Homo sapiens: one gene and its partners. The protein of the gene in region 7 purifies or fractionates together with the protein of the main gene of each other region. This does not show direct contact. Each region holds a gene or a part of one and is shown on either strand. Other genes may lie near its edges. The genes, in order: TTC5, NNT, SLC25A13, KATNIP, LARS2, ACBD3 and BCKDHB.

Evidence for each region.
Region 1: the proteins of BCKDHB (region 7) and TTC5 purify together in Homo sapiens (affinity purification with mass spectrometry; one large-scale study listed by BioGRID and IntAct). This does not show direct contact.
Region 2: the proteins of BCKDHB (region 7) and NNT fractionate together in Homo sapiens (co-fractionation; one large-scale study listed by BioGRID). This does not show direct contact.
Region 3: the proteins of BCKDHB (region 7) and SLC25A13 fractionate together in Homo sapiens (co-fractionation; one large-scale study listed by BioGRID). This does not show direct contact.
Region 4: the proteins of BCKDHB (region 7) and KATNIP purify together in Homo sapiens (tandem affinity purification; one large-scale study listed by IntAct). This does not show direct contact.
Region 5: the proteins of BCKDHB (region 7) and LARS2 purify together in Homo sapiens (affinity purification with mass spectrometry; one large-scale study listed by BioGRID and IntAct). This does not show direct contact.
Region 6: the proteins of BCKDHB (region 7) and ACBD3 purify together in Homo sapiens (pull-down; one large-scale study listed by IntAct). This does not show direct contact.

Annotation. Positions count from the first base shown.
Region 1 is NC_000014.9:20,285,727-20,288,951, forward strand, and holds the end of TTC5 (tetratricopeptide repeat protein 5), read right to left. Parts: 3' UTR 501-3,225; downstream 1-500. UniProt on the Homo sapiens protein: Cofactor involved in the regulation of various cellular mechanisms such as actin regulation, autophagy, chromatin regulation and DNA repair.
Region 2 is NC_000005.10:43,601,902-43,605,979, reverse strand, and holds the start of NNT (NAD(P) transhydrogenase, mitochondrial), read right to left. Parts: upstream 2,801-4,078; 5' UTR 2,686-2,800; exon of another isoform or gene 1,310-2,685; intron 1-1,309. UniProt on the Homo sapiens protein: The transhydrogenation between NADH and NADP is coupled to respiration and ATP hydrolysis and functions as a proton pump across the membrane. May play a role in reactive oxygen species (ROS) detoxification in the adrenal gland.
Region 3 is NC_000007.14:96,179,099-96,182,598, forward strand, and holds part of SLC25A13 (electrogenic aspartate/glutamate antiporter SLC25A13, mitochondrial), read right to left. Parts: intron 1-3,500. UniProt on the Homo sapiens protein: Mitochondrial electrogenic aspartate/glutamate antiporter that favors efflux of aspartate and entry of glutamate and proton within the mitochondria as part of the malate-aspartate shuttle.
Region 4 is NC_000016.10:27,777,144-27,780,844, reverse strand, and holds the end of KATNIP (katanin-interacting protein), read right to left. Parts: intron 3,236-3,701; coding exon 3,075-3,235; intron 2,965-3,074; coding exon 2,876-2,964; intron 2,272-2,875; coding exon 2,216-2,271; 3' UTR 501-2,215; downstream 1-500. UniProt on the Homo sapiens protein: May influence the stability of microtubules (MT), possibly through interaction with the MT-severing katanin complex.
Region 5 is NC_000003.12:45,489,576-45,493,075, forward strand, and holds part of LARS2 (leucine--tRNA ligase, mitochondrial), read left to right. Parts: intron 1-1,941; coding exon 1,942-2,225; intron 2,226-3,500.
Region 6 is NC_000001.11:226,148,742-226,152,241, reverse strand, and holds part of ACBD3 (Golgi resident protein GCP60), read left to right. Parts: intron 1-3,500. UniProt on the Homo sapiens protein: Involved in the maintenance of Golgi structure by interacting with giantin, affecting protein transport between the endoplasmic reticulum and Golgi. Involved in hormone-induced steroid biosynthesis in testicular Leydig cells.
Region 7 is NC_000006.12:80,165,671-80,169,170, reverse strand, and holds part of BCKDHB (2-oxoisovalerate dehydrogenase subunit beta, mitochondrial isoform 1 precursor), read right to left. Parts: intron 1,494-3,500; coding exon 1,360-1,493; intron 297-1,359; coding exon 141-296; coding exon of another isoform or gene 114-140; exon of another isoform or gene 1-113. UniProt on the Homo sapiens protein: Together with BCKDHA forms the heterotetrameric E1 subunit of the mitochondrial branched-chain alpha-ketoacid dehydrogenase (BCKD) complex.

The DNA of each region.
Region 1 (3,225 bases), on a different chromosome or scaffold from region 7:
CACACGTATGTTTATTGCAGCACTGTTCGCAATAGCAAAGACTTGGAACCAACCCAAATGTCCAACAATGATAGACTGGATTAAGAAAATGTGGCACATATACACCATGGAATACTATGCAGCCATAAAAATGATGAGTTCATGTCCTTTGTAGGGACATGGATGAAGCTGGAAACCATCATTCTCAGCAAACTATCGCAAGGACAAAAAAACCAAACACCACATTTTCTCACTCATAGGTGGGAATTGAACAATGAGAACGCATGGACACAGGAAGGGGAATACCACACTCGGGGAACTGTTGTGGGGTGGGGGGAGGGGGGAGGGATAGCATTAGGAGATATACCTAATGCTAAATGATGAGTTAATGGGTGCAGCACACCAACATGGCACATGTATACATATGTAACAAACCTGCACGTTGTGCACATGTACCCTAAAACTTAAAGTATAATAATAATAAAAAAAAGAGAGAGCATTAAGAAAATGAAAAAGCAAGCTGCGATTTGGATAAATATATTTGAAAAACATAATTTATAATGGATTAGTATCCAGAACATGTAAGGAATCAATAAGAAGACAACCCAATAAAAATTGGACAAAAGAAAACAGAGATTTCATAGAAAAAGAAACAGGAATGGACAAAGAAATGTAATTTATGCCTACTATGTGATATTTTATAATCATCTGGTTGGTAAAAATTAAAAAGCTAGACAATTTCAAAAAAAGAAAAAGACAGACTGGGCTTTAAAGATCAGTAGGGAAAGGATTGATTCTTTAATAAAAGGTGCTGGGCTATTTACTCATTATGAAAAAAATTATATCCGTACATAACATAAAATAAAGTCATACTGTAAGAAAAGGACAAAATAACTTCATAAAGCAGTAGAGGGAAAATGTCCTTATGACTTTAGGAGAGCTAAGAACCTCTTAAAACACAAAAAGCATTATCATAAAAGATGGATAAATTCAATGACATTGAAATTAAGAACTTCTGTTCAGCAAAAGACCCAATAGAATAAAAAAAAAAACAGGATAAAACTGTATGTAGACAAACGATTAGTACAGGGAATATATAAATCAATTTGACATCCAATACAGCAGTGTGCAAAGACTCGAATAGGCATTTTACCGAGAGAAAATATTAGTGGCTTCTAAATATATGAAAAGATGCTCAAGCTCATTAATAATCAGAAATGCAAATTAAGGCCACAAGGAAATAATACTCAAATCTCCTGTATTTGCAATACCTAAAAGATAATACCAAGCACAGAAGAGGATGGGGAGCATTGGGGTGACTCATCTATTGATAGTAGAGACATAAACTAATATAAGCACTTTGGAAATGTTTAGTGCTTCTCAAAAAAGTTGAACATGTATATACTCTATGATCCAGCAATTCCATTCTATGTCAATACTCTTAAACAGTGGTTCTCAAATTTTACTGTGCATCAGAGTCACCTGGAGGGTTTGCGAAACACAGATTGCTGGGCTCCTCCCACATAGTTTTGAATTCAGTAAGTCTGGGTAGGGGGCTTGAGAATTTGCATTTCAAAGAAGTTCCAAGGGATGCTGATGCTGCTGGTCTGGGAACCACTCTTCAAGAGCCATTGCTGTAAAAGAAACTTTTGCACTTACATATCAGGACATATACAAGAATATTAATAATGTAGTGCTTTGGTAGTAAAAAAAGAAAAACTGGAAACCCAAATATCCTTTAACAACAGGATGAATAAATTATGGTATAATCATACAATGAGATTTATATAGCTGTGAAGACAAATGAGATCATGGAGAGGTATGCAAGGGCTTCCAAGTTATCAATGATGTTCTAGTTTTTAAGGCAGGTGGATATTTTATGGGTATTCTAGTTATTCCTGAAACCGTATGTACAAATTTTGCATACTTACTTGTTTGTACGCACTGCTTCTCTGTGGCTACCACCTACTGGCCATTTTTCTACTCTCTAGCCCTACACAGAACATGTCAACTCATCTCAGAATTTGAGTAAAAGGGGAACAGTATTTGGGTCCCACATCTCTACTGCCTCAAATGTTTACACATACTACTACCCCCATCTTCCCTAGTTGCTTTCAGCCAATTCTCAAGTTATTTTTATACCCCACAAGCTCCTAATCACTCTTCTATGACTCTAGGCCTCAAAATGACACCCAAAACTAATTTAAGACTCCATATGTGGTATAACAGACAGTACTTCTAATAAAAACTGTCTCTTGCTACCATAGGTTTTTTTGGTGCAGTCCATGAAGAGTGTTCTTGCAAACTATATCAGACTGGTTACTCATACTGACTTTAGCTTATCTACTAAGATTCTTAGTAATATTCATATATGATGTTGAAGCTATACCTGAGAATGTAAGCCTTTTTGGACCAAAAGAATGGACTGAAAATTTTATCTTATTAGACTCAGCCTTTATGACTTCTTAGATAGAGACAGATAGATAGATAGATAGATAGACAGATAGATAGATAAAACTTCTCTCATCAATGCATTTCTACCATCCATTCTCTGAGGAGGCCTCTGCACTCTTTATAAATTTAATGAGTCATCAATGATATTCAAGGCACTGATCAAAAACTGAACAGGACTGGACCAAGAACAAAGATCTGAGCCATTTCACTAGAAGACTTCTCAATTCATCTGTATACATTAATGTATTACAGCCATTCAGTTGTTGTTGCTGTTTGAGACGGAGTCTCGCTCTGTCGCCCATGCTGGAGTGCAGTGGCATGATATCGGCTCACTGCAACCTCCACTTCCCAGGTTCAAGCAATTCTCTGCCTCAGCCTCCCCAGTAGCTGTGATTACAGGTGCCTGCCACCACGCCCAGCTAATTTTTGTATTTTTAGTAGAGACGGAGTTTCACCATCTTGGCCAGGCTGATCTTGAACTCCTGACCTCGTGATCCACCCGCCTTGGACTCCCAAAGTGGTGGGATTACAGGCTGAGCCACCGTGCCAGGCCAATTCAATTGGTTATTAATCCTCACTCACATTTCTCCATTTTACCACAAGGATATTAAGATAAACTGTTATAAAACATGTCACTAGACTCTAAAGAAACTGAGGATTTATCTAACTCTCTCTGGTCCTTCAGCCTAGTAACACTATTAGAACAGTATTGCTCTGTCATCTTGGACCATAGTGAAGACCACCCCTAGGGAATGACAGAATGGGAAAATGGAAGAAAGCTGGTCTCTAGCA
Region 2 (4,078 bases), on a different chromosome or scaffold from region 7:
TATTTCATGGCCTGAAATCTGGAAAATTTGTTCCTTCTACTTGGAAAATGGTAATTTGATGTTCAGCAGATCCTTGGCAGGGGCATCAGACATCAGTAGGGCCAAAGCCTTCATAGGCCCATTTCTGTGAAAAATTTCACTTGATTCAACTGTGAACATACAGGGCAGAGATCAGGAGGTCATTTCTTGGCAAAAGCAATACATATCACTAAGTCTAAACCAAATACAAATGGCCCTGAAAGATAGAGAATATTTAAACTATCTTATCATTGACCTGTACAGGTTTATACAAAAGATAATACTCCATCCTAATCATCACATTTTCCTCCATCTTCACTGTAAAGCTCTCATTTATCCATGTGTTCCTGTGGCTTTGAAGCAATAAGAAAAAAACTTTATAACTCAAAATTAGGGGAAAAAAGCACAACTTTTTTTTTTTTTTTTTTTTTTTTTTTTTGAGACGGAGTCTCGCTCTGTCGCCCAGGCCGGACTGCGGACTGCAGTGGCGCAATCTCGGCTCACTGCAAGCTCCGCTTCCCGGGTTCACGCCATTCTCCTGCCTCAGCCTCCCGAGTAGCTGGGACTACAGGCGCCCGCCACCGCGCCCGGCTAATTTTTTGTATTTTTAGTAGAGACGGGGTTTCACCTTGTTAGCCAGGATGGTCTCGATCTCCTGACCTCATGATCCACCCGCCTCGGCCTCCCAAAGTGCTGGGATTACAGGCGTGAGCCACCGCGCCCGGCCCAAAAGCACAACTTTTTAAGCATTGCTTTCATATGTATGTTTAATGTAACTTATATGGGTTATTTCCCCTATTAGATATTAAAATCCTTGAGGGAAAGCACCCAACCTAAAGAGGGAGGATACCACAGATATTTAAGAGAGTCAGCTCTGGATCTGCGGATTGGAAGCCCCACTCTGCAACTTATTGGCTGTGTGACCTTGGGAAGTCACTTAACTTCCCTGTACTTAATTTCCTCATCTTTAAAATGGGGAATAATAGCACCCACCCAGGGTGGTGGCTCACGCCTATAATGCCATCTCTTTGGGAGGCTAGTGGGGAGGACTGCTTGAGGCCAAGAATTCAAGACTAGCCTGGCCAACACAGTGAGACCCCCATTGCTAAAAAAAAAAAATTAATTAGCAGGGCATGGTGGTGCAAGCCTGAAGTCCCAGCTACTTGGGAGTCTGAGGTGGGAGAATCACTTGAGCCCAGGAGTTCCAGGCTGCAGTAAGCCGTGATTGTGCCACTGTACTCCAGCTTGGACAACAGAGCGAGACTTGAAAAAATAAAATAACAGCACCTACCTCTCAGGGTTGTTGCCAGGACTGAGAATATCCTTATCAGCTGTTATATTCACTTTGGTATTACTCTCCCCCAGTGCTTTGCACAACACAGAGGAAGTCAGTATTTTTGACTGAATGAATAGGGCTAGGTGACCTTAAGCCTAAGTACCTATTGAGCACATTTTCCAAGGATTTTCGGAAAATTTCCTTTGAAAAGGAAATGTTTGTGTAGCCTTGTGGAAAACTGATTCTATCACCAAGGTAAGCAGCCTAAGCGCACCTGCTGGAAAGAAGGCAATCCTAAACTGTCTGTTAATAAAAAGTCAAGGTTTACAAATAAAAGGGGTGCAATGAAGAAAAGGGGCACACTTTAAATAAGAAGAGTAGGTAGGCACCTAAGCCCCACGCGCTTCTCCGAATAAGTCTGTCCTACAAGACTCCTGACAAACAGACCACCTAAGGACTGGCCGGCGCCACAGGGTGAATAAAGGACACCGGCAACCATAAACAAGTCACGCTTTTAAAAGCGAGACATACCAGCAAGGACACAATACCCTACTGAGCCAGCTTCGGCTGGCAGGCGCCGTGACCTCACCCAAAGCCACTGGTGTCACGGCTACTGCCACCGGTGCCGTCCCTTGCTCGGCAACTAACTGCCACCCGCTGGCATCTGCACGAGACCGCTATTTATAACCTCCCTAGGAAGCCGATTGGCCACGGCTGCAAATAGTCATTCCGGCTGTTGAGTTTGAACTAGCTCTGCCCAGGTCGCCCTCTCCGCTGTCTCTTCCTCCTCACCAGCCTAGGCCCCAGAAACTTGTACCCACCACCGCCAGACCGCCCCAACTCACACTCACAATTTGTGCTCGCAATCTCCTATGTCCCCAGCCGGACACCCTCTCCGAACTCCCTCAAGGGTCAAGCATACCTCAAGGGCATCCAGCTGCCACCTCTCTGGATGAACCGCCCATCGAAAGTCCTCTATGACCTCCCTCTCCACCACCCCCGATCTTGAGGGCCGAAATGACCCCGTACGACTCTCGCTGTCCCCCAAAGCTGCAAATATCTGCACCTGCACAGCTGCCGCCTCATTCCCTGCCCTCTTCGGGGACCCAGTTCCCAAATCCACCAGCCCACTCCCTTCGACATCGCCCCAGCAGGAGACGAGAAAGGGACACCAAGAGGCACGGTGCTTCTTCCCCACCTAAGCCTGCGGCCTGCGGACACCCCAATGCACCCTGCGCCCGGGACACCGCCGACCCCGCCCCGCTTTGCTCTTTGACAGGTCTCTCTCCCGGCGAGGGCCGTGGTCTTCAGGAAAGGCCCGAGCCCCTTTCCCAGCTGCGCCCTAGGCGCGCGCCCCGGCTGCCCGCACCCGCCAGTGCCGTCGCGCTCACCTGGGCCGGGAGGCTGACAGCCTTGGGCTGTGCCCTGAGGGCCGCGAGAGGACGTCGCGCTGGCAGACCCGGGCTTGGGCCCCGCGGCGCTGCGCCTCCAACCCGGAAGAACAGCCCCAACTCCGCGGCGGCGGGCGGCCACGTGACTGCAGCTCCGCTCCCACCTCGGCCCGCGCCCCTTCCCCGCCCCAGCTTTCTTCCCGCCAGGCCCCCTCCACCCGATCGCCGCGCGCTCTCCGAACCAAAAGGCGACCTCACGAAATGCCCCTTTGAGCTCAAAGGCTAGTTACCCCCAGGGGCCCTTCCACTCTCGGGGACAGGCGAAACCTCTTTGTCTCTGCCTCGGCCTGCGGCCCCCAGCCCAGCCTCCGCGCTTTCCCTCCGCCAGTCCTTGTCAATCAAACCTGGTGCCAAACGCGGCAGCTGAAGTTTTCAGGGACACATTTGCTTCTCCCCTTGAAGAACCAGTTACAAAGCGTGATGTCCTCTCTGGGGTCCCATCAGAACAAAGAAACAGGTAATATAACTCCACTCCGGGTACCTGCCTTTCCTCCAGCTCGCTAGGAAAAATCAGAACTTCTGTAACAGAGAGGACCCAAGGGAAAGGGGCAGGCGGAGAGGGGTTGGTGAAGGGCGGGAATGGGGGGCGTTGATTTTCCATTCTGGCAGGAGAGGTGGAGTTAAATTCCTCAGAAACGATGTCCAGGCTTGAAAAGTAACACACATCTGCGTGCTTGTCTTCCAACATCAGAGCCAGCCTAGAGGAAGCTGGCTAGTGTCACTGCTAGTACGAATATCCCCGAGGCTGGAAAGCATCTGGGTGGAGGTTGTGAGCTTTCCAGACCAGGCCTCGGCTGTTTTTCTAAAACTATTAACCGTAATGACCTAGTCGTTCTTTTCACACAGTTCTGTTACTTATTCTGCAGGTGTATTCTGACTAAAAGTGGGAGGAATAAAAAATAGAGTGTAAAATGGTTCACTTGCCCAAAACTTAATCATCATGAAGTGTCAGTAACGTCATTTATTTCTATTAATTGAAATTTTGATACAAGAAAAATAATTATGAATCTAAAAGGTATAAGCAGAACAGGTATTCCATAACTTTAAAAAGAAATGAGCCGCAGGGAAACCCTTAGTTTGAGAACTTGTCTTGTGATTAACCTACACAGAAGGTCATTCAACTAATGGATTCCCACTGCAGTCCAAACTCACAGACAGGAAATGACACAGCCCCATGTTTTAAAATAATAATGAGCCGTGGTAAGTGTGACCATAGGGACGGTTTCCAGATACTGAAGGTACAATGAAGTGAGATTAGTAATGATCCCACTTAGTAAGGATTTTAAACTAAGTTATTGATTTAAAACTTTTTGTAGGGGTCAGGAGTTGCTGC
Region 3 (3,500 bases), on a different chromosome or scaffold from region 7:
TATGATTATGGTCTGGAAAAAAATCAGTTCCTCAACTCCTCTATTCTGGGGCTTTCTAGAAGTAAAGAGAATTGGGGAAAACGATCAGATACTCCTGCAGTTTTTCACCATAGTACATGAGAACGTTCAGGATCCTGGTTATCTTTTCTTCTATCTAAACTATTTCCCTCCTACTGAGGTTTAATCTATCTCCCTTGTTTTAGTCTCAGCAACAGTAGCTGGTTATAAATTATCATTTTTGAGGTGTGGAACTAATTCATTCATTAACCTCTTCTCTAGGATACCTACACGTCTATCTTTTTGTCATATTTTTCCAATTTTCTAAGGTCATCAGTTGTTACTGTAGCACTCTCAAGTCTCTAACAATTCTCTCACCCACCTTAGATCCAGTGTGTGTCGCCTCAGTCTCAGATTACAATGCCCTGTGCTCACTAAAGTTAGCTCACTGTAGATTTCTGGAGATTGGCTAACCCAACAAATGATCTGTTGAAATCTTCTGCTCATTCTTATGTGGCTTCCTATAACCAAATACATGTCTTCTGATATTTTTATAGCTTAATGCTCTAAATGAAAACGTGCAGAAATTGGCCAAGAAAATAAAGACTCAAACCTATCCATTTTGCAATCATTAAAAGTTTTGGTGGACATGGATGGACATGAGTGCAGTTCACAGATTAACTATGGTTTGTTTCAAGATGCATGTGTTCTTAAGTAATGCAAAACAGTCATGGAAATTTCAATCATTTTATTTTGGTGCCAGAATTTTAAAGTTTATTTTATCCCCATGAATTATGCAAGAATGAAGAATCTCACTGTGATTCTAAAGAATCTGGATACTCCCTTTTATAGTACCATCAATGATAAGGGACCTGGCTTAAACTAGCTGCCTGCCAAAACTTCCCTCTGCAATATAAAAGTATCAATAACTCCCTGAGATATCACCACAACATCCTCTAGATGTCACCTTGAGAACATTCCAGGATGGAAGATGACTGCTTTGCACTACACAGACAACTTGAAATAGAAATATTTACAACTCTGCAAGCTTGGATCAATGGGCTGATTAAAAAATGTGGTTTTTTTTTTGCCAATTTCCTCAAAGGTTAAGCACTGCTTAAATTAAGTTTAATTCATAAAATGATCTAATTACTCTTTCTGGGAGATTTTCTTTAGGGCTTCTCCCATCAATAGAAACAAAAATTTTCGTCTAAGAAGTATTTCTGATAGACCCTGATTTCTATCTCTTTTTTTTTCTAAATTGAGACAGAGTTTCACTCTTGTCTCCCAGGCAGGAATGCAGCGGCACAATCTCAGATCACTGCATCCTCCTGGGTTCAAGCGATTCTCCTGCCTCAGCCTGTAGCTGCGATTACAGGCCCGCCATTATGCCCAGCCAATTTTTGTATTTTTAGTAGAGACAGAGTTTGGCCATGTTGGCCAGGCTGGTCTTGAACTCCTGACCTCAGGTGATCCACCCGCCTCGGTCTCCCAAAGTGCTGGGATTACAGGCATAAGCCACCGTACCCGGCCATATTTCTCTTAATACATCTTTTTCCCCAAGATTCTCCCAAAACATTTTCCAGTGTCTAAGGCTGCTCATCTCATCACCTGAAAGATCTGAGAGAGAAGACTGCAACAAAGTTTAAAAGCAGAAATTATTTATTCCTGGAACATTAAGAGCATTTAATTATGGATGATTACCCAATCAATTGTTGTTCTTTAATACGCCAGATCTATAGCAGGCCAATGACTGATTCATTTGGTTATGCCAGTCATTCAAACCAAACAAGTTGTCAGGTAATTCATTAAGGATTTCAAATACCTGAGCACATTAAATCACTCTGAAGACTGGGGAGGAAACAGAGAAAGAATTTTAAAAGTGACTTCAGGAAGACCTGGATTATCTCAGGTGTGATTTCCCTTAATACAGACAGGCTTGGCCTGGGGGTTGGATTTTCAGAAATAACAACAACAACAACAACAACAAACTAGGAAAATTTGCCATTTTCTTGTTAGGAAAAAAGTAGTTTGCACTGTAGAGAAGGTTTGCAGAGCCAGACTCATGGGATTTTTAAGGAGCTCTTTTCCAGCAACTAAAACTTACACAAAAATAGGAGAGAGGCTCCTGGAAATAAAGAAAACGGAGTTATACCAATACATGGAGAGCAGGAATTAACCAACTCACAACACCTCTCATGACTCTCTGAGGTATATTTCTATTGAAGAGCACTGCTAGGCACTCTCTCATGACTACCAAGCAACTTCCACAACTATTCTGATGCAGCCAGCTGCGGGGGAGGCAAAGAACAAAACTTGTGGTGGAGCACTACAAGAGTTCTTTTAAAATAACCTTCATTCTAATGCCACAGGGAAAGGCTTTTAAATGCAAAAACAGCTTCTGATATTCTTGTTATAAGAAAAAGAGATATTTATTAACCTCATAATAAGATCGCATGCTACAAAAACACCTTCTTTGAGGCCAGATGCCAACTTTTTTCAAAGTATACACAAAGGTAATTTTAAAGTAGGAGAAAGATCTTACAACTGCAACATTCCCAAATTATCTCATTCAGGAAATATGAGCAATTACATAGGCCTTGATAGAGAAAAATTACATGTTGAGCAAAATTCTGTAATACTAAAAACTATGCTCAATATTTAAAAACATGTATGAATTAAAGATGTACTCTGATACCTTCTCAAATATTGCTAGGTGAAAGCATTAATAGCAGCAATACTATATTTTCCTAATTTAAACGTAACAGTTTTCCTCTGGAATAATATAATTTTAAAATAAAGTTACATTTTATGAGAAATGTACAAAGAATCACATATAGGTATTTCATAATGTGACTTTGTACATAAAGGTGATAATACTGAGTCTCAGAAATATGTCAGGTCTTTTTTACTTATATTGTAATTTTTTAAATTAACAACAATAACCATGAGTTACCTACATTTTCATCTGATCTCTCTTACCCAATAAGCACTTACAAATATGCAGTTATATACAATTATTAATTATTGATGATGTACAAGAAACTAAAGAGAACTGATCCCTGACCAATCAAGAATAGGAACAAGTCATTTTCATGGCAAAGTTATGTATCATTATTATTTTAACCTGAACTGTCAGTCATCATTTTGCTCTCAAGATGATCCAAATTACAGAATGGGACTAAACAAAAATTTTACAGTAAATTTTTTGTTTTAAAATGGTTTACCAGAAAAGATATCAGGAAGAAATGAACACAGGTGACTCCTAGAACTAATCTTATATTCACACTCTACTCATCATCCTGACAGACAGCTCTGTCTCTTGCCCTTAAGGTTGGGGCACCCAAAGATAAATGGCCATTTCTAAACCAGGAAAAGGGTGAAGAGCTGCCACTTGGGTGTTTACAGTGAGCCTCTGTCTGTACCTAATATATTGACTTACTACTCCTCTGAGAAGTTAAAAGCAGTCACTCTCATCTTACAGATAAAAGAACTGAAACGGC
Region 4 (3,701 bases), on a different chromosome or scaffold from region 7:
GGGTGGGCAGGGAGGAGGTCCAGGAACTGGGGGTCTGGGGGCCACCATTCCAGGATCCACACATGGTGAAGGGAAACCCCAGGGCCAAAGACCCAAGTGTTGTCACCCCCACCTCAACTCTCCAGGGGCCCTCTCAGGATTTGTGCATTGGCTAATAGCTTCCAAAGCTGTGTGTCCCAGGAAAGCTGCACAACCTCTCTGTGTCTCAGCTCCCTTATCTGTAAAGTGAGGATAATAATAGTGCCCACCCCAAAGGGTTGTGTTACGTGGATTAAACAAGTTAGAGCCAGGCATGTAATCACCACTCTCTATGGATGAGCTACTGTTGTCTGCTCATACGGCAGGACAATCTCATTGAGTAGTCAGGGCGAGATCATGACCCCATCTGCAGCTCAGTGAGGGCTTCTCTGTGTCACTCAGCTCCTGGAGGCAGCATGGACTCCCCATCTGACCCCAAATCCGGTGACTCGGACTATATTCTTAATAACATCTTTTATTAATTTTGCAAGAGGAAAAAAATAGAAATTTATTTTAGAGTTAAAGCTTGTACAGCCTTTTTTTCCCCTCCTAAATTGCACAGTACATACGATTATTATAAACATCAGCTGCGGTTCTGGGAGTGAGCTTGTGTCGTGTTAGTGCCATCTCCCTGACAAATCTGACCTGTACCCACATCTCAGCTGGGAAGGAGTAGCTGGGCCTCCCTTTAATGCAGCGGCACTGGTTTGGGTCACAAGAGCTGGTTTGATCAACCCCTGACTCCCCCTGGCGGGAGGTGCTCGTCACATCTGGGAGCTGAGCAGAGGTGCCGGGGGCTTGGAAGCTGGAGAAATGATGGATCTTTCTCCAGGAGAAACAATTCTTATCTTCACATCAGCCCCGTGCTCCAAATGAAAAGCGCGTTTGCATAGCTGCTCGAGCCCAGGCTGCTAAGCTCATGAAGTATTTGCCGGGGCTCTCGGTTGCATAGGAACGTACCTCGAGTACAGTACTGCGGCGGGCCGGGCTGGGCGCCAGAAAAACAACGGATTAATATTTGCAACGAGAAATTACCCACTACTGGGAAACCAATTAGGTCCCTGATCCGAGCTTGTTACATCGATGCATATAGATGCGTTCTGGGCTTCACTCGGCTGGGGGTGCAAGGCACATTTCCAACTCGCTGGGAAGTGGCTGAAGGGGGAGAAGGGGTGGGGGCCTGGGAAAGGAGCACCTCACTGCCTGCCTCCAAGGGCACAGGGGCAGAGACAGAAAGCAGCCACATCAGTGAGCACAGCCGTGATCAGACCAGGAGGGACATGTGGCAGAGAGTGCAGGGAGGGCCTGCTCAAGGGTGAGGGGAGATGGGGGATTGTCCTCAGTGTTCCCCAACACCTGCATCCAGAGGGCACTGGGGTGAGTTCTTCTGGCCCTCTGGGGTCTGGAGCTGCCAGCCTGCTGGCCACCCACCCACCCTTCCTGGCCCGGCAGCAGCACGCAGATGATACCCTGGCCTGCCAGAGTGGGCCCAGCTCTTGCCAAGGTGGATGGCGGGTGGCCCAGCTGACTTCCTTCCCTCTGCAGGATGCACACAGCCTTGGCCAATCCCTTATCAGGCCCGATGAGAGGAGAGAGGCCCCTATACCGGGATGAGAGAGGGTCTTGTGGACCCCTGTAACCAGGAAACTACCCCAACCTCTCAGCCAGCTCCACCAGTCCCCAAATGAGACAAGGATGCGCAGGGGATGGGGGGTGTTGGCCGCTGAAGCTCAGGTTTCTGAAGGCAGTCTCCCTGGGCAGTGCCCTGCTTACTGGAGTTGCGGGGTAGGGTCTGGTCTCCCACTGTCCTGCTCAGCCATTCTCTGGGCCCTCTGAGGCTGGATGGGATGCCTCCCCACCCCGTCATTGTCCTGTTCTGAGTCAGGGTCAGCCCAGGCCCTAGTGGTCATGGGCCCTGCTTTGCTGGGTCTCACAGCAGAGGCATGAAGGCGGGTGTCCTGGGCTCCCTGTGGCCAACCCAGAACTGCAGGGGATCTCTTTGCCCTGCAGCCACAGCCATCTGTCACTCTGGTAGTATCCAGGGCTGTCCTCCCGAGTCCCCTCTTCCCAGCGGGCTCCCCTCAACACTGTGGTTCGCTTCCAGCTCCTGGGACTGAGGGTGAGGGACGCAGGCACTGAGTGGGGCTGCTGACGGAGCCCACCATAGTGGGAGGACCAGCTCTCCCTCCTTCACCAGTCAGCAGCGCCGTCGTCTCGTCTCCTTCTCGCTGATGCAGGTTTTGGGACGTAAGGCTGTCATGACAGGGAACAGAGGGACCAGAGTTACTAAGTCTCAAACCCTGGAGGGGTGCCCCACACTCCCCAGTGAAATCCAGCAGCCTGGGTTGCCATTCAAGGCCCTTGGAAAAGTCCCTGCTCTCGGGGCGCCTGGCACGCTGGCCCCTTCCCTCCGCCTGGAGCAGGCTCTGCCACAACACCCCTCTCAGCCTTTGCCCAGGCTGCCTGGCACACTCCTCACATCCTTTAGGATCCAGCTCAAACATCACCTCCTCCGGGAAGCCCTCACCTTGGGCATCCTCTATTGGTTTCCCACGGCCCGGGGCAAACCCCTTTAACATGGTGCTCTGTCCCTGACTGCTTCCCCACTCTGTGCCCACGACACTTAGATTCAGGAAGCTCCACTGTGTTACAGGTGCCTGCAAGAAGATGGAAGCATGTTGCTCCCCTGGTTCCATCCTCTTCAGTCCCTCCCTAGGCCTTTGGGCAGGCTCCTGGGCAGAGGAGAGCGGTCTAGGGGCAGGCAGGGGTGAGGGTGGGGGTGCAAGGCCACCAGCTCCTTCTATATTCAGACCGAGCTCCCAAGGCACAATGCTCTGGGCAGAGAAACGCCACTGACCTGGGTCAACAACGCTCTGCTTCCGTTTCGCGTTGGTAATGATTTGGTTTTCATTCATCATCTGGACATCTTGATCCTCGGCCTGATTACTGAGGGTAGGAAGGAAACACAAGATTCGATCAGGCTCCTGGCCGTGTGTCCCAGCCATCCATCCTCCTTAGGGCTGGTGGGGAGGCCATGGGGCCGGCTGGGGCCCTACCTGATGGTGGTGTGTTTCTCCTGGTGGCGGATGTCCCTGTCCTCGGTGAAGAGGATGGTGTGGTAGGGCACGGTGGGCTCACATGTGGGCAGGATGCCCCCCACCAGGTGGCTCACCATGGCCAGGATCCCATTGTACACAAGCAGGTCGTCCACCAGGAGCTGCAGGGACACGGGGCAGGACTCATGGGTCCCCCTCGTCCCTCCCACGTTGACCTTGGGCAGAACGCGTTACTGCTCTGAGCCAAGGCTTTCTCCTCGGGAAGACGGGGCTGTCAGGAACAAGCGCCTACTGTGTGCTGTGTCTGCCTTGTGATTTCAGATCTTCACAACCATTGGGAAAGGCAGGAGCTATCAGCATGCATTGCAGATGAGGAAATTGAGGCCCGAGGGGCTTTAATACCATTAGCACAAGTGGCAGAGCTGGAGGCAAACTTGGGTCTCTGGTATCCAGGGTCCCTGTTTTCCCCATCCCAGGGTCACCGCCCCAAACCAGTGGGATTCTAGAGGAAAAGACGAAAGAAAACCCACTTTCTATTTGCTCAGGGTGACACTGAAATCACTGCCAGCAGGTTCTGAATTCATGGTTGGGTGGGAAATTCGCCTGCATCTGACGACCAGGCATTTG
Region 5 (3,500 bases), on a different chromosome or scaffold from region 7:
TGCCACTTAATGTCTGGTCCCTGGACCAGCAGTACTGGCATCACGTGTCTTAGATCCCACCCTAGTCTAATAAGATCCCTATATGATTTGTATGCACATTAGAAGTTTGAGAATACTGGCTTAGAGCACTCTTAAACTTAACTGCACATTGGAAACACCTGAGAGTTTTAAAATAATACTGATGCCTGGGTCTCACTCCAGATACTCCGATTTGATGGTTATTGGTGGTGAGGGGGGCATGGATCAGACATCAATAGTGTTCAGAGCTCCCTAGTTGATTCTGATGTGCAGCAGAGTCTGGGAACTACTGACTTAACATAGTGATGCCACACCTGGCCATGGCTCTGAATCACCTGGGAGGTGCTTACAGGTCCCATCTTGGCTGATCTTGATTCAGTGAGACCTGAAGATCCAAGTTTTTCAGGTTTGTGACTATCTGGCTATATTTATATCTATAGAATAAAGGAATAATGGTCAGGTTTTCTCCTTTGTAAGGAGTCCATGTTTTATAACCCCATGTTTGTGGCTTTACTTCATAAACTGCATCCCCAGACATGAGTCATGCTCTAAGATATGGACCCTTAGGCCTTTTTTTAGACCTTGTTTGAGCAGGTTTCCTGGAGGTAGAGCAGAGCGAAATCACAGTGTCTGTAAGGAGCCCCAGTTAACCCTCTACAGGGCAAGAAAGGGGACACTTGTGGCCAAAATTAGGCTTCTGAAGTGCCTAGTGAAGCATCCACTCTTTAGTACAGTACTCTGAGCATTAATTATGCTTCCTGGCTTCTTTCACACAGCTTCAGATGGTCTGTTGAAGCCTCTCCTGGCTCTAGGCTGAATATCTAGAGTAAAATAATTATTTCAATAAGTAGAAGGAGAATGGCTGGGGAAAAGCCGCTTTCATCTATGAGCTTCTGGAATGGAAAGACAGTGGTGTTAGGAGAAGACTGACTTTCAGGAGAGCTTTTTATGATTTGCATCACGACTGTGATAATGGGAGTGCAGAAAGACACTTCAGACCATTCATGAAAAGGGCTGCTTTTGATAAACATAGCTGTATTTTCTTATTCTTTATGCCTCTTGACTGTAAGCTCCTTGAGGACATGGGAAGATCATATTTATCTTTGTGGCCCCAATGGCTAGCACGAGCCCAGCACGTATAGATGCCCAGTGGGTCTTCACTGAACAAATGCGAGGGTACCCGCAATCCAGGTTGTTACCAAGCCACACTGGCTCAATTCATATAATTAGTTTGGCTCTCTGAAAAGCACCAAGTGAAAAGATAATTTCTCTTTTGTACTGTTAGTGGTCTGTCCTGCTGTCTATAAAACGGGAGCATTTAAATATAAAAAGAGTGGTCTGGTTCTTCAAGCCGAAGCCTCAGAATGTTCCTCTGCTTGCCTGAATTCCTTCTGCTTTAGGATAATATTGGATTTTTCTTTTCTGAATATTTTCCCCCCAACAGGGGAGTAGTCATTAAAAATCCATATCGTGCAGTTCTGTACTGGCAGCTAAAAGCTGATATTTGATGATCTCTGTAGGTGTCACAGGGCTCTGGTGATAAAGCAAGCCACAGAACCAGGGCCAACTTAGACACATTAGACACAGTAGACACAGTGCCTAGGGCCCACAATACTTTTAGAGGCCTCTGCAAAAGTTTTAATTTCTTTTAAAATCAGAAGAAAAAAATGAACTTTTAGGGTCAAAAGTTATATTTGTCTTTATATTGATGCAGTTGTAAAATATAATTTTTAATATTATCTGAAGGAGCAAGGAGCCTACAAAGGCAGAAGCACCTAGGGCTCATGAAAGTTATGACACAGCTCTGCACAGAACTGGTCCCTTGGGAGAGCCACACATAAACATGGCAGGACTGGTGGCAGCATCAGGGTGGTGACTGGTGCTATGCGGAGAGGAGTGAGCTTTCTTTTCTTTCCCTGTCAGTTCACAGGTATGACCCGGCAGGATGCTTTTCTAGCCCTGACTCAGAAAGCCCGGGGGAAGAGAGTGGGTGGAGACGTGACAAGTGATAAACTGAAAGACTGGCTGATTTCACGGCAGCGGTACTGGGGCACACCAATCCCCATTGTCCACTGCCCAGTCTGTGGCCCCACACCTGTGCCCCTGGAGGACTTGCCTGTGACCCTGCCCAACATCGCGTCTTTCACTGGCAAGGGAGGCCCCCCACTGGCCATGGCTTCAGAGTGGGTGAACTGCTCCTGCCCAAGGTAAGGAGCCACATCCCTGCAGTGGTGACTGTGCCTATGGCCCCATACCTGCTAGGGCTTCAGACAGCCTCCTCCCTCCTGGTGCTAACTCTGCTCCCTTTTTCCCTGACTTCCATGAGGCTGGAAAGAACACTGTGGGTCTTTGGGGCCCTTTAAGAGAAGGGTCTGGAATCTGTGGCCCTGCCTCTGCAATGGGCATCCTCCCTTCTCTGAGCTGTTGGAAGCAGCAGTGTCAGTTCAGATCTATCCCAGAAACATCTGATCCAACTGATGGAAAAGCTCTAAATTTTCCTTACAGCTTTGTAAAAAACCACTTTCCTCCATTTTGATATTCCAAAGAGCCACGTGGAGAGGGGAGAAAATGTTCTCTTCTCCACCTTGCAGTTTTCCAATATAGTGACTGTAACAACAGTGGAGATTTTATCATGAGTAGCAGAGTAGTTGCTAAGAGAGCAAGTGTGCTCAGGGCTGCATTCTTTAATATGCTGAAGCACCATGGTTCCTTTCTCCTCATTTTGGAAGTGGGATTATGTTTTTCTGTCTATTCACTGGCATGTCTCAAGCATGATTTTTAATGATGCTGTCCATATCAGCTAATTAAACAAATAGCAGATACCAAGTTCCAGTATTTTCCTTCTTCTGCGGAGAAGCCATTTTTCTCTGCCTTATAGATCATGATGAGGATATTATAAAATAATTTTGTATTCTGCCAGTATAGAGCTGAGTTACTAGGTTGACAATTAGGTAACCACGTAGTGTAATTGGAAGTCTTGAGCTGGGTGTCAAATCAGTGATGGATTCAAGTCCTGGCTCTGCCTCCTAACTAACTGTCTAGCCTTGGGAAAGTCATTTACCTTCTCTGAGCGTGAAATCCCTCATCAGGAACAAAAATAACCCCATTGAAGGGCTTTTCAGAAGACTAGAATTAACACATGTGATCCTGCACAGTGATACCTTCTAGGCCTTCAATAAATAGAAACTTTATGGCCATCCAGCCAGGGACTTGCCAGCCATCCTCCCAGGTCCTCACTGAGGCAGTTTTGAAATTCAAGGTGGAACTTGGAGGGAGGTATATAGGAAGGCCCAGACCATTTTAGGGTAGAAATGTTGGCTCCAGGAGGAAAATAGCACACCCTCTTTGTTGATAAGCGCTGACAAAGGGCTTCCCTACCAGAGATGTTGGTGGCCTGCATACAGCACAGCAGTTGTGGCCTTATTGATGAGGATAAGGTTTCCTGCTTGGCTGCAGAATTACTGGAGGGCAGAACCTAGGCC
Region 6 (3,500 bases), on a different chromosome or scaffold from region 7:
CTAACACTTCATGGTTAGGGAACACTTTCTTCATTAGTGGGACCTTGGGCTGAAAATGTTATGAGGCCAGGCTCCTGTAGGGGACTGGGGCCTAAACCTGAATTTTTCTGAATGCCAGGAAAATCTATTTGGCAATTTGCTATTTTACTCCTTTCTGAATACTATTTTACTTCTAACCGTGTGTGTTGAAAAGCCAAATATGCAAGATTACTTCAAAAAAAATTTTTTTTTTTTTGAGACAGAGTCTCACTCTGTCACCCAGGCTGGAGTGCAGTGGCATGATCTCTGCTCACAGTAGTCTCGGCCTCTTAGGTTCAAGCGATTCTCCTGCCTCAGCCTCCTGAGTAGCTGGGATTACAGGCACGCACCACTGTGCCCGGCTAATTTTTTGTATTTTTAGTAGAGACGAGGTTTCACCATGTTGGTCAGGCTGGTCTCGAACTCCTGACCTTGTGATCCACCCGCCTCGGCCTCCCAAAGTGCTGGGATTACAGGCGTGAGCCACAGCACCCGACCCACTTTGAAAAATTTTAAAGGAGCAAGTAAGAATTCCTGTCAACCCTGGCATTTATTTAAATTTATATTGTTGATATTAGCATTTTAGGTCATTATTCTAAAATTTTTTATGTAAATACAGAAACTCACCAGAATAGTCCACTTAAAAAAATTTCAATTATTTTTCCATTTGGAAATCCCTATTTTGCTAGAGTGGAATTTTTTTACTTCCTCTGAATAAGTAGACAAAATTGGGTGTTTTAAAGGACAGTCTAAAATATCTTGGTCTAAGAAATAGGTTATAAATGTATTGCTTTTTGAGAAGAGGGTCTCTTTATTTTTGTTACCCAGGAAAGTTAGAATGTAGGGTTTGTTTATATACACTTAATAAGCACTTAATTTATTTGTTGACTTGATTGAAAGTGATATGGAATGCATGCCCTGTGAGAATGGAAAAGCACCATGTCTCAGTTCTTCCAGACTAACTGACCTTTCAGGTGGCTTGTAAACAGACTGCTTGTTCTTGAAGAGGGTTGGCAATGTTGCTTTACAGATTACAGTGGGATAAAGTTAAAAAGATATTATTGAAAGTACATGGAATAAGCCTGAAAGTTCTATCAACTTGTGAAGTACAGAGTTGTCCAATCATATTACCATACCATGCAACACCCTGGGGCCTCTGGGGCTATCTACAGAAACATACACTGCAGGTGTGCCATACATTTCTTGAAATTAAGTTTAATATTCAATTTAACAGTTAATATTTAATGCTAATCAAAAGATAATCCAAAGATAATTCCGTATCATTATCTACATGAACCATCAGAGTATCCCAGAAATTTCAGTACATCTTGCAGATTGACTTTTACCCCAGAAGCAGATTTAAAATCCTTCATTATACCACAGGTCCAGATTCTAGCTGGTAAATATGGAAGCATGAGCTGCTTTGTCTTACACGGCATTTTGTTTTCATCAGTCTTTATTCCTGAGTACCACCAGCAAGGCAAAGCATTGCTCATAAATAATACTGACTGAGACAGAAAGAAAAAATGTAAGATTGAAAAAGCCTGGGCCGGACGCGGTGGCTCACGCCTGTAATCCCAACACTTTGGGAGGCCGAGGTGGGTGGATCACAAGGTCAGGAGTTCGAGACCAGTCTGGCCAACATGGTGAAGCCCTGTCTCTACTAAAAATATAAAAATTAGCCGAGCGTGGTGGTGGGTGCCTGTAATCCCAGCTACTCGGGAGGCTGAGGCAGGAGAATCACTTGAACCTGGGAGGCAGAGGTTGCAGTGAGCCGAGATCACACCACTGCACTCCAGCCTGGGCAACAGAGCGAGACTCCGTCTCAAAAATAAAAAAAAGAAAAAGCCTGTCTGGGCATGGTATCTCATGACTGTAATCTCAGCTTTTGGGGAGGCCAAGTAAGGAAGATCTCTTGAGGCCAGAAGTTTAAGACCAGTCTGGGCAACCCGTTTTGTAGAGTGACACCACATCTCGACAAAAAAAATTTTTTTTTAGTTAGGTGGGTGTGGTGGCATGTACCTGTAGTCCCAGGTACATGGGAGGCTGAGGCAAGAGGATTGCTTGAGTCCAGGAATTCGAGGCTGTAGTGAGCTATATGATCACACCACTGCATTCCAGCCCGAGCGACAGAGCTAGGCCCTCCCTCTAAAAAAAAAAAAAAAAAATTAAAAAAAATAAAAAGCAGTTAGAGAGCAGGACTGTAGCAGATTAGCCAGGGGGCACTACTGTTTTCTCATGTGACCTTCAACAACATCAGAACCTGTTCTGTCCTTTCTGTTGCATCACAGGGACTCATTAAAGTCAGACTGTCTGCAGATGTCTGGGAAGGAAAGTTTTTTGTATGCATACAAATTACTGTACTTACAAAGAGCTTTGTGAGGCCAGGCACGGTGGCCCCTGCCTGTAATCTCAGCACTTTGGGAGGCCAAAGCGGATGGATTGCTAGAGCTCAGGAGTTCAAGACCAGCCTGGGCAACATGATGAAACCCTGTCTCTACCAAAAATACAAAAAACTAGCTGGGTGTGATGGTGTGCACCTGTAGTCCCAGCTACTTGGGAGGCTGAGGTGGGAAAATTGCTTGAGCCCAGGAGGTAGAGGTTGCAGTGAGCTGAGATCAAGTCACTTCACTCCAGCCTGGGCCACAGAGCCAGACCCCATCTCAAAAAAAAAAAAAAAAAAAAAAAAAAAAAGATGGCTGGGCGCAGTGGCTGACACCTGTAATCCCAGCACTTTGGGAGCCTGAGGTGGGTGAATCACCTGAGGTCAGGAGTTCAAGACCAGCCTGGCCAACATGGTGAAACCCCATCTCTACTAAAAGTACAAAAATTAGCCAGGCATGGTGGCACATGCCTGTAATCCCAGCTACTTGGGAGACTGAGGCAGGAGAATCGCTTGAACCCGGGAGGTGGAGATTGCAGTGAGCTGAGATCGTGCCATTGCACTCCAGCCTGGGCGACAGAGCCAGACTCCGTCTCAAAAAAAAAAAAAAATGAAAGAGCTTTGTGAATAAGAATTCTCTGTTCAGAAGTTGGTTGAGGTAATGTATTTCTCCTGGCTTGCCTATTAGAGAGCTTCTAAAAGGTGGTTACTGCCTAGTCTGAACCCTCAGCTGATGATAGTTTTGGGGTTATATTGGTGTTGGGAAGATCACTAGTGAAAATGGCAGGGGTTCATTTCTAGAGGTAAGAACCTTAATATCCTTGATCTTAGTTCTAATATGTCCCTCAAATGAAAGATGGCATTCCCTGTACTTGTACCATTCCTAATCATAAAATGATTTGCAGCTAAAACATTTTAGCCTCACAGCAGTGAAGCTTTATCATTCCTAAGAATTGTTCATTACATGAGCGTCACTTCATCCCATTTAAAGATTTAGCTCACAAATTGTATTTGTCCATATGCCTTAGAAGCTACTGTCCTACCGTGTCTTGTATTTCATATGGTAGAAGAGTCTGAGTTTTTTGGGTTTTGGTTTGGT
Region 7 (3,500 bases):
TTCTTAAATACAGTTAAGTTCACATAAATTCCAAGAATCCTGTTTGTTTTCTTTCCTCTAGATAAGCATAGATATTAAATAGAATGAATCAAAATGGAAACATCAAATAGAAATCAAATAAAGTACATAAATGAACATACCTTGATTCCTGGGCAATGGGCAAAAAATGCTTCAGGACTCTGAGAATGATAGAGAGCCCCATGACCAACACAGCCCCAAGGGGACCGGATAGTGAGGCTTCCACAGTTAAAAAGATCCCCAGAGCGATAGCGATACTTGGCAGCTTCATTAACAATCTGAGGGTCAGAAAGAAAGACGGGGCATGGCACAATGAGTCCTTCCCTTCCAATCTCCTTCCGTTCTTCCTCCCTCCCTCCCTTCCTTCCTTCCCTTCCCAAGGCACAATGAGTCTTTCCCTCCCTCCCTGCCTCCCTCCCCCTCTTCCTTCCTTCCTTCCTGCCTGCCTGCCTTTCTTTCCCATAGCACAATAAGTCTTTCCCTCCCTTCCTTTCTTTCTTAAGACAGGGTCTCGTCCCTCCCTCCCTCCCTCCCTCCTTCCTTCCTTTCTTCCTTCCTTTCCCATGGCACAATGAGTCTTTCCCTTCCTTCCTTCCTCCCTCCCTCCCTTCCTTCCTTCCTTTCCCATAGCACAATGAGCTTTTCCCTCCCTCCTTTCCTTTCTTTCTTGAGACAGGATCCCATCACTCCCTCCCTCCCTCCCTCCCTCCCTCTCTTCCTTTTCTTCCTTCCCTCCCTCCCTCCCTTCCCTTCTTTCTTTTTGAGACAGGGTCTTGTCTTTCCCTTCCTCTCTCCTCTCCTCTCTCCCCTCTCCCTTCTTCCCTCTCCCCTCTCTCTCGCTCTTTCTTTCTTTCTCTCTTCTTTTCTTTTTGAGAAAGGGTCTCATTCTGTCACCCAGGGAGTGCAGTGCTGCGATCACAGTTCATTGTAGCCTTGGACTCCTGGTTTAAGTTATCCTCCTGCCTCAGCCACCAGAGTAACTGGGATGACAGGTATGTGCCACCACACTGGGCTAATTTTTGTAGTTTTTGTAGATATGGGTTCTCATTATCATTATGTTGCCCAGGATGGTGTTGAACTCTTGGCCTCAAGTGATCCTCCCACCCTGGCCTCCCAAAGTGCTGGGATTGCAGATGTGAGCCACTTCACCCAATCCCAATCTATCTGCTTAAACTATTCTATTAGATCTTTAAATATATGCTCATAACAAAATTATAATTGTAATACATTAGTAAAAGGATAATAAAATGTTTAGAATGCAGGTAAGGGTGGGTGGAAGGGTAGCGGCAATACTTGAATATTTCAATGAATGAACAACCTTAGAAATGTTCATTCACTTACCTGATCAAATGCAGGGAAAATATAATCTGCAAACTGAATTTCCGCAATGGCAGTAGCTCCAGTGACCGCAATTCCGATTCCAAATCCAACAATTCCTTGTTCACACAATGGGGTATTAAAAACTCTATCTTTTCCTTAAAATAGAAAAGAAAAAAAGGTTAATGTGGCAAATGAGAGTAATGTCATGCATAATACATTTAAAAATTCAGTAAACTAATAATGGGATGGAGAAGTATAGAACAGGTAGAGGAAACAGAAAATAAAGAGTATGGCTAGCCACGGTGGCTCACACCTGTAATCCTAGCAGTTTGGGAGGCCAAGGCAAGAGGATTACTTGAGACCAGGAGTTCAACACCAACCTGGCCAACATAGTGAAAACCTGTCTCTATTAAAAAAAAATAGTAAGGTGAATTATTTAAATCCAATTAATAATTGTATTAATTGTAAGTAATCTAATGTTTCAATGAAAATAAAAACTGTCACACTAATTTAAAAGAAAGGAAAACCCAACTATTTGAAAGGAAACACAAACTCTAAAGACAGAGAAAGGTTGTTAAAAAAAAGAAAAAAGAAGGAAAAAATAGACAATAAAAAACCTAACCAAAAGAAAGTTGATGTCACTATATTAATAGCAGGCAAAGTAGACTTTCAGGAAAAAAACATACCAGAGATAAAGAGGGAAAACGCATACTGTTAAAGGGTTCAATTCACAAGAAATAAATAATTCTAAATCTATACTTATCTAACAATGGGCTCCAAATAAATGGAAAAAAGCAACACAACTAAAAGGACAAATGGACAAAATCACCACATAGTGGGAGATGATTTTTTAATGTACTAGTCTTAATAACTGACAAAAAAGGCATACCAAAAAAAAGGAGGGAGTGTGAAAAATAGAGATGATTTAAACATGTTCAACAAACATGGCCTAACTGACATACAAAGGACACTGCACCCAGAAGCAAAGAATACAAATCCTTTTCAATTAAACAGAAAACACTGACATCAATTGACCATATACTGGACTACAAATCCAATCTCAACAAATTTTAAAAGATGAAAATTACATATATTCTCTGACCATAGTGTAATTAAGTTAGAAATCAATAAAAAGATCATTCAAAAAATTCTTATGTTAGAATTTTTTTTTTTTTTGAGATGGAGTTTTGCTCTTGTCACCCAGGCTAGAGTGCAATGGCGCAATCTCAGCTCACTGCAACCTCTGACTCCTGAGTTCAAGCCATTCTCCTGCCTCAGCCACCCGAGTAGCTGGGATTATAGGCGCCCACCACTACACCCAGCTAATTTTTGTATTTTTAGGAAAGACGGGGTTTCACCATGTTGGCCAGGCTGGTCTCGAACTCCTGACCTCAGGTGATCCACCCGCCTCGACCTCCCACGGTGCTGGGATTACAGGCATGAGCTACCGGGCCTGGCTAGAAATTTTTTTTAATAAATAGCTAAGTAACTCACAGCTCAAAGAAGAAACTATAATGAAAATTAGAAAGTGGTATTTTAAATTGAATAATAATGAAAAAACTATACAAAATATCTTATTGAGGTTCTGAACGTAATGTCAGAGTTGCGTTTTTCAGACTATCCTTTCCACATTTAATGATTATAAACTCTGGGCAAAATAAAACAAACAACTATTTAAAGGCATTGAAGGGCCAAAAGTAGGCATAAACTGGAGTCTTGACTCTTGAAAGAAATTAAGCCCAGTGGATGACCATGACGTTCATAAGCCTTGTCCTGCAAAAGGACTCCCCAGTCTATGAGTCAGGACAGCTAAAATTCAAACAAATAGACTCAGTCTGGTTGATCTGAGGTGTCAGAAAATAGTCTGTGGCTACCAGTGGTTGAAAATTGAGAGACTAAATCCCTAAAAGAAGGGCACAGCATGGAGGAGCCCCAAAATCTGTGCAAAAACTGATCAAATCCTTGCCAACACTTGTGCCCACAGGACACTCCAAAAGCCCAGCAGCAAATAATCTCTCCCAGTTAAAAGAGCTGTGCCCACCAACAAGGAGGCAGATTTTGGAGTTTGAGACCCTTCAAATTAGAGAAGTTTGATAAACCCTTTAGACGATCCATTCGAACCACTAGGTACAATTTTATTAGCGTATAATTCAATTCTCACT